Linked DNA regions of Homo sapiens. The protein of the gene in region 3 interacts with the protein of the main gene of each other region in a pairwise test. Each region holds a gene or a part of one and is shown on either strand. Other genes may lie near its edges. The genes, in order: HIBADH, CLDN20 and MAL.

Evidence for each region.
Region 1: the proteins of MAL (region 3) and HIBADH interact in binary tests that used the Homo sapiens proteins (3 or more experiments, as listed by UniProt).
Region 2: the proteins of MAL (region 3) and CLDN20 interact in binary tests that used the Homo sapiens proteins (3 or more experiments, as listed by UniProt).

What each region holds. Positions count from the first base shown.
Region 1 is NC_000007.14:27,649,313-27,652,967, forward strand, and holds part of HIBADH (3-hydroxyisobutyrate dehydrogenase, mitochondrial isoform 1 precursor), read right to left. Parts: intron 3,339-3,655; exon of another isoform or gene 3,288-3,338; intron 322-3,287; coding exon 161-321; intron 1-160.
Region 2 is NC_000006.12:155,270,500-155,274,154, forward strand, and holds part of CLDN20 (claudin-20 precursor), read left to right. Parts: intron 1-3,655. UniProt on the Homo sapiens protein: Plays a major role in tight junction-specific obliteration of the intercellular space, through calcium-independent cell-adhesion activity.
Region 3 is NC_000002.12:95,042,694-95,046,348, forward strand, and holds part of MAL (myelin and lymphocyte protein), read left to right. Parts: intron 1-3,191; exon of another isoform or gene 3,192-3,454; intron 3,455-3,655. UniProt on the Homo sapiens protein: May be involved in vesicular trafficking from the Golgi apparatus to the cell membrane. Plays a role in the maintenance of the myelin sheath, and in axon-glia and glia-glia interactions.

The DNA.
Region 1 (3,655 bases), on a different chromosome or scaffold from region 3:
CAAATCTGGATGTTGGATGAATGATTACATATATATAAAATTAACACTGAATTAGGTTTACAACTCCATTGGGTATACTTCTAAGAAGCTGTCACTTATTTGAATGTATATTCATTTTTCATTCTCAAAATCTAAAACAAATCTAAAGAAAAGGTCTTACCTGTTCACCTGCATCTTGAAACTCTTTGCAGGCATCAGGGAACACATCATAAATAATAAGTGGATAGCCATGTTTCATGAGATTTTTTGCCATTGGATTCCCCATGTTGCCCAGTCCAATGAATCCAACTGGAGTCTTTGAAGCCACTGACCTAGAACACACTGATTTCAATACATTATTTTCAATAGGGGCAAATAACATTTTTTATTGTAAACATTCATTTAATATTAGCAAGTCAATTGTTAGATTTTTTTTTTTTAATAAAAGAAACTTTCAGGAACCAGGTGCAGTGGTGCACACCTATAATCCCAGCTACTTGGGAGGCTGAGGTAGGAGGACTGCTCGAGCCCAGGAGTTTTAGAACAGCCTAGGCAACACAGTGAGATCCCATCTCAAAAATAAATAATAATATTTATTAAAAAAAAAACCCACTAACTTTTAAAAGGCAAATTTTAAACTAATGGACCTAACCACATTTAAAGTTATCAACAATGTGCAGGCAGACTAACTTCTAATTATTTAGTTTTCTGGGGCACATTCACAAAATTTTAAGCATTTTTCCTGTTTTGTACCTGTATAACATTCTTTTACCATTTTTAACAATAAACTAAATAATGTTATCATTTATAAAACACCTAATATGTAATTTACTTATAATGTGAAGTATTCCATATTATCTCCCTTAATAATGTGTATAAAAGACAGAAAGTATTCAAAAAGACGTAAGTCTTGGACCAGCTTCAAGAATGGAAAAACTTTTTACCTTCCCACTCCCACAGTTACAGAAACCATCCCCTCCAATGATACAAAAAAAAAAAAACTCAAAAAGATGTTAAACCCAGGAGAATGGAATCACCAGTTTATAAAGGTGGTCCTGGGGTAGAAAGGGGAGATACCTCCATAGGCTTTAAATGGCAAGTGTAACAGTATCAGGACCTTGGTCTAACAACTCTGAACTTTCAGAAAAGAGAGACTTCCTTATTATATTTTTATTTATTTATTTATTTATTTATTTATTTATTTATTTATTTATTTTTTGAGACGGAGTCTCACTCTGTCACCCAGATTGGAGGGCAGTAATGCAATCTCGGCTCACTGAAGCCTCTGCCTATTGGGTTCAAGCAATTCTCATGCCTTAGCCTCCGGTGTAGCTGGGATCACAGACACGCACCACCATGCCTGGCTAATTTTTGTCCTTTTAATAGAGACAGAGTTTCACCATGTTGACCAGGCTGCCATTAAAAAAAAAAAAAAAAAAGCCTTAAAAACTACACAGGTTTTATTTATTCTTTTATTTTTCATATAAGACTTTTTGAAATTACTCCGTGGGCATATGAATCAAAGTAATGCGTTACAGAGTGGGGAGGCTTTACAGTACTATGGAAATAGCGTTAGATGCAATTTTTCACTTTCTAGATTTAGAACTCCACTCAATAAATATTCACTGCATGAAGTACTATGACAGAGCTCAGAGACAGACACAAGCAACGTATGGTCCCTGTCCTTTAAAAGCTCACAGTCTAGTGAGGGAAAAGAGAGAAGTAACTCTCCTTGCTCTTCCATTTCCCAGCATTCTTTTTCTTTTTTCTTTCAAGAACTCCAGCTTTAAAATTTGTAGTGCAACAACTAATCACAGTCCCTCTTTTAAGTTTCAGGTCCCCTCAACTGAACTTAATCTGCTCTTCCCTGAACTGAATCTGAATGGAATGAGATTTGTTAAAAGCAAATTATTTGAAGCCCTAATGCTTAAGAACTAGAGGTCTTCTTGGGTTGGAAGCATATTTAATTCCTTTAACTTAATGACTGACTCTAACACTTCCATTAAATGTGGGTGTCATTTCTGTGCAACATCATTTAACAGGCGCTAAGTTTAATACACTGGTATAATAGTACACTGGTATAATAGTACACTGGTATAGTTTGTCTTTCTGGCCTGCAAGGAATTCAATGACAGAAAAGTGACACCAAACTGAAATTTTATTTTGATATTAAACAGAATGAGTACACTTCATCAGAGAACTCTAACTAATGCTCATAAACAAACTAGCAATAATAGCCAGAAAGAAAATGTGGCATTACTGTGTTAAGGTTGAAAAGGTGTAATTTAGCAATCTAAAAACTTCAGCAACTAGGAAGATTATAATTTAAAGACAGTTAATTTAACAGGCAATTCACTCTAGGTCAAACAATTCATAAGTATGGTCACGTAGAACCACAATTCATTCACAAATTCAACAAACACTAAGCAACTATCACATGTACCAAAAGAGATGCCAAAGAAGGTAAGAGACACAGTCCTTGCCTTCAACAAGCTTAAAACCAAGAAGAAATAAACCATGTACATAAACACTAACATAAGACAGTTAAAGATAAAAACACAATGCTGATGAAAAATGAGAATTCATGGTGTGGGAACTTGAGGAATGTGGCATCTGACCTGGATATTATACAAGGGGTAGGATTTCAAATGGATAGGAGGGTAAGGAGGAGGGGAACTCCATACAGAAAAAGGAACATGAATATATACAAGGAACTAGAAGAGCCATGAAGAAATGACAGTAATAGTTAATATTTACTGCAATTTTACTACATGCCAGACACTATGCTAAGCACTTTATAAACAGACCTATTACCATATGCTATATATGAAGCCCATCTTACAGCTGAGAACCCTGATGCTGAGTTGAAGTAAAATACCTAATACTTTACTAAGTTGTAATGCCAAGATTCAAATCCAGACATTCTAATTCTAGAGTCTCCACTTGTAAACATTGTATGATACTGCCCTCTATTCTTCCTAAAGAATGCACAAAGAAACAAAACAGCAAGAGATTAAGATTAAAAAAAAAATGCAACCATAATGTGGAAGGATAGAAGGATGCTAAACAACTTGTATTTTGTAGGCAAGAGGTAGTTATTGAAACAGTGGGCAAGAGAAATGACAGATGAGACTTACACTTTAGGAACAGAAATGAGGCAGCAGTGTACAATGAATGAACTTGAAGAAAAGAGCCTGGAGGCAAGAAGACCAATATAAAAGTGACAGTAATCCTCTAGATGCCTTAGTTTGAGCTACTATAACAAATATACCATAATGGCTTAAATAACGAACACTTATTTCTCACAGTTCTGGAGGCCAGGAAGTCCAACATGAAGGTGACAGCAGATCCAGTGTCTGGTAGGTCCACTTCCTCGTTTGCTGATGGCCATTTTCTCACTGTATCCTCACATGGTAGAGAGCAGAAAGAGAAGCCACTCTCATGTCTCTCTGTACAACAGCACTAATCCTATTCACAGGAGCTCTATCCGCATGATCTAATTGCCTCCCAAAGGGCCTAGCTCCTAATATCATTATATTGAGGGTTAGGAATTTTGGCCAGGCGCAGCGGCTCACGCCTGTAATCCCAGCACTTTGGGAGGCCAAAGTGGGTGGATCACCTGAGGTCAGGAGTTTGAGACCAACCTGGCCAACATGGTGAAACCCAGTCTTTACTA
Region 2 (3,655 bases), on a different chromosome or scaffold from region 3:
ACGAAAGTTGCTTCCAGTTCAGAAGTTTTCCTTCTAAAGCAGGCAATTAATATTTTATAGGATTATTGTTTTCATCAAGGCAAAAAAATAATCAACATGTTTTGAGAATAGAAATGTACATTAAATGTACATTAAAGCATGCTTAACCCATTTATCCTCCAGCCAGCTTCCTTATGCTAGAGGTTAGAGTGGGGAGCAGCCGGGTCCCTCCATCTGCCATCAGTCAGCCTCACAAAGCTTATGTCTGCACTAACAACCATGGCGACCAGCGAAACAAGCCAGGACGCTGGAGGGCCCTGGTGAGGTGTCTTCGGATGCAGCACTAATGACACTGCTGCGACTATTAGTGTCTGCAATTCAACTCAACTTCTTCCAGTATTTATTTATGCACTGAATTGTTTGTATTTCCCATGAAATAAAATCAAAGAACAAAGCCAGTACACATAAAGCTTACAACGACTTAGAGAGCTAAGACTTAACATGTAATCAATACTATGGCTGAAAAGCAAACCCACAGATGTTAGACTTAGAAAAGAGGAAAAAGAGTATCTTGCTCAATGCAAAACTTAGGATTAAAACAAACCAAAACAAAAAATCCAGATAACCGAAACATGTGTTTGTTTATTTACTACTTTTAAAGAAATGATTAAAGTCTAACATGGTTATTAACAGTTGTTAAATTTAAAAATCCAATAATAAAATTATCTTCTTTCTGTATAATGGCTATGAATTTATAGCTTGTAGAATAAAACTTACTGAGGAAGAAAAAAATGAGAACCCAAAAGGATGGCAGTGAAATCCATCTGTACCATTATTCATGGGCTACAACCTCAGTATCTGATCACAGTCTTATCTGATGTGTCTCATCACATCATTTTGGGTAATTTATTCATAACATTTCCTGAATCTCTATAGTTATACTCCACAAATCTAAGTGGAAGCAATAACAAGAAAACTCAGGGCACCACACACACAAAAATACCTGTAGGTTTAGTGATCAGATTCTAGTCAAAAGTTGTTGCTGGGTTTTCTTTTTTCTTTTATTGAAAAAAATACATATGTTAAAAAACTTTCTTCTGAATGATTATTTTGAAAATTAACAATTTTATGAATTCAGGTTCCAGACAAGTCAAGAATACCAGGGAAAAAAGGGAGTCTCAACTCTCATTTGCAAGGCACGACATTGTTAAAAATATTTCAGACCACATTCTTGAACTGAGGACATAAAATAATACATTATATCTTTCAACATAGAGAAAATTTCAAAAATAAGTTATAACTATGTGACTAAAACATTATATTAAAAGAAAAGAAGGCCTTTTTGTGAGCACCCAAATAATTCCTCCTCTGTACACAGTGACACAAAAGCATTTTTAGCTTTCAGGTTTCAACAAATCCTGTTGTAACAACAATTCCCTCCCTTCCCCGCCTCTCCTTTCTTAATTCTCCCACATCTCAAAAAATGAGATGGAGAACCTGGTATTTATCTTCTAACACCATCAGCAGTTTTTACCTCTCAGATTTCTACGTTGTCCTTTATTTGCTTTTTTCAAGTTAACTTATTGGAGCTTTATAAACATATCCAGAATTTCTGAAATAAGCCTCACGTATATGGTTTTTCTTCACCATAACTAACTGAGGTTAATTTGAAGACAACTGACCGAAGGAGTTAAGACAGTGAAGGCTACTGACAAAAGGTATGGTAAATAAAACCTGTCTTAATGCTTAGAGATCTAAGAATAGGTCTTTCGGTATTATTTAGTTCGAATTATAAGCAGTAAATCTGCTTTTAAATATTATTTTTGATATAAATAAACCTTGTCTGGAAAGCTGACTTTACATTTTAGTGAAATCTACAACAGACTTTCTGTTGGCGAGTAGTTCATAAACTGAAGGTGCCTGGGTTCTGTTCTGTGTGCACTGTGTTTTGGGACCATGAGAGAGTTTTCACTGTAGACCATGTAAGTGTTTACATGCGACCCCTCCCCTCTGCTTCTGCTTGCCTTCACAGTATTTCTCTACCACCACCACCACAGCTGCTGGAACAAAGTGTGCCTTTATTCTCTACGAGATAGAAATTTTGAGAGAACAGGCCACAAACGGTATTATACTCGTGGCTGGAGGGTAAAGCGCAATGCAGCTAAAATGCCAGTATATTTGTATGAGCAGAAAGTGACCTTCATTTGGAGAACAAATTCTTTCTACATAAGTTCTCTATGCAGAAAAAAAAGCATTTGAATCCAATATTCAACAGTAAGCAAGCACTATGCTAATTAAATGACACGTCATATTGTTTACACTGATTTTGGCTGTCTGTAATTGATCACTGCCAGTACTTGTTAATCATGATGAACAAACTGTCTTCATGTCTGAAATATACTGAAAGTTATAAAATATATCAGTTAATGGGAAGAAAAGGATTATAATTGGTAAGCTGAACATAGATTGACAACAAAGGTTATTCAGTCAAAGTAGAAAGAAAGAGAGAGGGAGAGAGAAAAGTGAGCAAGCAGATGCTGTTAGAAAATGTTCCAGCAACCCCACACTTGAAGAATCCCTAAGCTGAAAATGGTCCAGAGGCAGTAATTTAGCAAGCTGGCTGGAGTCCGAAATGCTAAAACCTAAACTTGAAAGCAGCTATTACAAAACTGTAAACATGTGCTTGATTTTTTTTCTAGAAACTTTAACTTTTGTTCTATTTTGGTCTAAGTTTGGAAAACAGAAAAGAAACTGTATGATAGCAGGTGAATCCTAGGCACACTGATGTCTACAGATAAGTCTGACTCTTAAGAACTTAAAATCCTAGGGAAATCCTTTTCTAAAATGGTAAGATTTACATTTTCAGATTATGAACAAAAACAGAACAGCACAATCCAGATAGTCTAGGATCTAATGTCTTAGAGAATCAATGTTTGTAGCTATGCAAAGTTTATACTTTAAATATAGGCAATGGATTAGTACTATTTCAAATATTTAACCAAAGCCAGGCATCAATCTCCTTGCCGAGTCATCTGAAGCTGAGCCATGTGGCCTATTAACATCCTCTACAGTCCTTTTTTTCCTTGGTGGGGAGGGGAGTGGGTGAAGTAGACAGTTAATGGTGCTTTTTGCCTCCAGATACAGTGTTTTCCCTGGTTCCCAAGGGAAACACACAGGGGGAGAAAGAATTTCAGCAGGAAGTGTTGTGGTAAAAGGGGAAAGGATGCGGGATGACCCTGTGAGGTAGGAGGGGTGGAGAGAGATCTGGACGCTGCAGGTTGGCTGCTGAAGACTGTATGACATGGGGTGATATCCTATCTGAACATTCTGATCTGAAAAAACAAGGATGCTTGAGATTGTCTGTCTGAGGTTTCTTTCAGCTCCAAGATTCTATGAAAATAAATCAGCCCAAGGAAGGAAGAGAAAAAGGGAAAAGATCCAAATAATTTTAAACATCAATTGTCACAATACATAAGAAATAAAAATACTAATAATGATGTCAATTTTAAATTACTGAGGACTTTCTGTGGCTTAAATATTGGTCTAAGCCCTTAAAATGTATTAACTTATTTAACCCTATGAACGAAGTATTTCAATCCTCCCCATTTTCCAGAAGAGGATACTGAGGCACAGAGAGGTATAAAGCTAAGAACTGGCCCAAGTGTCTTTGACTCAA
Region 3 (3,655 bases):
GTGCCAATAATGTTTTCAAAATAATTGCCTCTTTGCACTGCCACCTGGAGGCTGGGAGCCACCTGGAGTCTCCTTGATGAAAGGAAATGCTTGAACCCTCACATACTCCCTTGCTCTGGACAAATATTTGGCCAGCGGGGTCCTGAGGCCAGGCTGGAACAGATTGCTCTGTGCCCAGGAGTGCCTTAACTCCCTGGTGTGGGTGCCCTTCTTACTCTGTTTGCTCTCTGTACATTTAGTAGGTGGAGCAGGGCAGGAACCAGATTTGACTCATGGTTTACAACAAATCTCAGCTTTGCACACAGCGGGGCTGGAGGCTCACCCTCCCTGGAGCCCCACCTTCTGCTACTCCTTGACCCAAGCCCGGCTGCCCAGCCTTCAGCCTCCAAAGCCCTCACAGCTGCTTCAGCATCCTCTGAGCTTGGCATGTGCCCTTTCTGCCCTCTGGAGAGCCCCTCCCAGTCCTTTGGCCTGGTTAACCAGTTAGGTCCACCTCTCTCTCCAAGGCTCGACTGACCCTATGCACCTGTCCAGGCTGCTCTGCCCACTCGGGGCTGGTTGTCCACCTGCATGTTAAGTGGCTGCTTATGCATCTGTTTCCACTGAGCTGTCAGCCTCCTGCATGAACGACAACTTATTCCCAGGTATTGGTAGTGCTGGGCTCAGTGCCAGAAGCTTCATACTCACATCTGTAGTTTTAGCCAGTTCACACCAGCCCCCAGTGTGGGGAGACTGCTGTGAGTTGCCATTTGCAGAGAGGAAGCTGGGGCCAAGAGGCAGAATCACTTGCTGCAGCGTCCCACAGTGACTTCGGAGGACAGCTCCTCTGAGAACGGGAGTCCCCTGCCAAGGGGAGGGAGCTGGCAGGGCGCCTCTGCATTAGAATTCTCCCAGAGAAGACCGCGGCAAAGGCCTGTGCTCCAAAGGCAAGGGGCATGACTCAGCTGAGGCAACAGCTGTTTCTGTTCCACAGACACCTAGCCGGGAATGAAATCTCTCCTGACTCGGCTGTGCCTTTCCCGTATCCTCCTCTTCTTCTCAGGATTGCTCTTCACCCTCCTCCGCCCTGTCCCCCAGATGGCCCCTGTGACCCTGGGCTCTGCAGTCCTCCCTGGGCATCTCCTGGGCAGTGCTGAGCGGAAGGTCGACCGCCCCACTGCCCATCCCCTGGGAGCAAACCCCTGGCTTTCATGATGTCATCTGTGCTGAGACATCTGTGACTACCTTCACCTTCATATGTTTCTGGGACAGGCAAGGACTGGTGTAAGAGCGTCCCTAGGAACGTGGTTCCTCAGAGGCTTCTGGGTTGGAGGCTCCAGGGACATGAGACACACTCACCCAGGGCCCCCTGAATGGTGGGGTCCAAAAGGGGCACTGTGCAGCTGCAACGGTAGAGATATTCTGTGTAAGTCCCCTTGAGAGAGAATTTCTCACCTGAAGACATTATACTAAATGAAAGAAGTGAGCCACAAAAGTCCATATGTTGAATGATTCCATTCATATGAAAGTTCAAAATATGGAAGTTTGTAGAGATAGAAAGTAGATTAGTGGTTGCTTGGAATGGGGGCAGGGAAGCCACAGCTCATGGGATTTCTTTCCAAGGTGATGACAATGTTCCAAGATTGACTGTGGTGATGGACGCACGTATCTGCGAATATTCTGAAAACCAGGGAATCATACCCTTTCAATGGGGGAACTGCATGGGCTGTGAATTATAGCTCATAAAGCTGTTTAAGAAAAGAAAAAGATAATGTCTCCCCACCATCTCACTATGAAACATACTGCTATAAATATACCATGCAAAGGAAAAAAGTCGGCCTCATTTTTTAAAGGACTCACTTGCAAGGTGATGCCCCCAGAGGCTGGGTGGGGTCCTGAGATCTGTCAGGAGCTGGGGTTAAACCCATAGTGGGCTTTGTTCTATGGACAACTGTGGACAAGGTTCCCACTATAGACTGCAGGAACCTGCGAGCCAGTGTGGGGAGCATGGAATTTCCCAGGGAGCTGGAAAATAGTCTTCATCAGGTTGGTAAAAGCACACACTGGAACAGGGCAGAGTCTGGCCTGACCTCAAGGCCCTCCGCGCAGCTGCCGGAAGCTCAGAGCCCAGGCTGTGGCTGCAGCCAGCAAGGTGCACACAGGAGGCTGTGACCAGCTCTCCACACACTGACTTCCCCTCACTTTTCCTGCCATTGATTCCTCACACCAGTCACATCTTAAGCCACGTGGGAAGAATGGAGTGGAGTGAGATGACTCTGCAGACAGGAGCTGAGGACTACCTTCTCAGATTTGCCATTTCCAGCTGCCATCTGTGCATTAATTTACCTCATATGTATTTTACAGTTAATTTTTCCCAAAATAATGACATTGCAACCATAAGCATAGAAACAATGTCACTATCCGGTTTACCTTTGCCTATCCACGCTATTAGAGAACTCCAGACACCTGGCTCCACCCTGAGCCCTTCTTGCCTTCATCAGAAAAACCAAAGAGAGTAAAGGAGGAGGAAAATCGTTTCCTCACTGTGAAATTCAGTGTTCCTCGATAGCATGTGTATAGGTCACCCGTAAGCGCCTCTGGCCCACGGGGTCCCACTGGGATTCCATAACGGAGTCTCTTCCCAACCATGTGCAACCCAAGCTGCTCCTTTGGGGTTTGGTTCATAAGTGGCTCTAGTTCAGCCACACCCAGGTACCAGGAGACCAAGGCCCGTTAGCTGACTTGGACACCGATGCATGGCTGGATGGGTCTTCTCCTGGTCCCCACCAGTGAGGCAGCTGTGAGCAAGGCAGACCTCAAGCCCACCATCACCTGGTCAGGGAAAGCGCCATGTTATCCCTAACCCAATATACCTGTGTTTGTGCTGAGTGCTACAGAGAAGACGTGCAGGACTCCCTGAGACTGTGTGAACGAGGAAGCAACTTAAATTGGTCCTCCTGGGAGGGTCACGTAGCCACCAGGCAAAAGGCACTTAGGAGAGGGGTTCCCAGGCCAGGGCCTCCCTCTTCCCACTGGATGTGCCCGCTGGATCCTCCTCCTATTTCTCCATGCCACCCTCGCATGCCTCCTGAATCCAAGCCCTGCCTGTACCAATGTGCTCCTGTCCCTCCGTCAGTGCCCGTTATGGAAAAGGCCACATAATCTGTTGAATCTTAAACTCAACTGTGGATGAAATCTACACACACATCTTATTCCATGGTGGTCTGGGCATTTTTATTTAATTGATTTTGCTCCCATTTTTGTAAGATGCACAGTGCATCCCACCGGCCCTGCCACGTGCCTTCAGGCAACCTAAGATCCATCAGCAGAGGACGCTTTCTGGTCAGAGATGCCCACATCTGATTCCTTAGGGACAACTTGGTTTTAATAAATCCAAAGTCTTCATTGCACTGATTTTTCTACCCAAATGCAATTCTCTCCTGATTGCTTCTCAGTCAAGCAGCTCAGAGAACACCTGTGAAGACAGCGGTATCTCTCACCCAGCAGGTGGGCAGCAGGTGCAGGGAGGTGGGGGGGTCAAGGTGCTATGTGAATTCAAACCACAGGGGACATAGGCCTGGGAGGGCAGCCCCATCCTCAGCCCCCCAGACACTTCTGTAGTACCTTGGAGACTTTTGGCTGCAAAGGAATCTCCACATAGGCCTGGAGTGCTTCG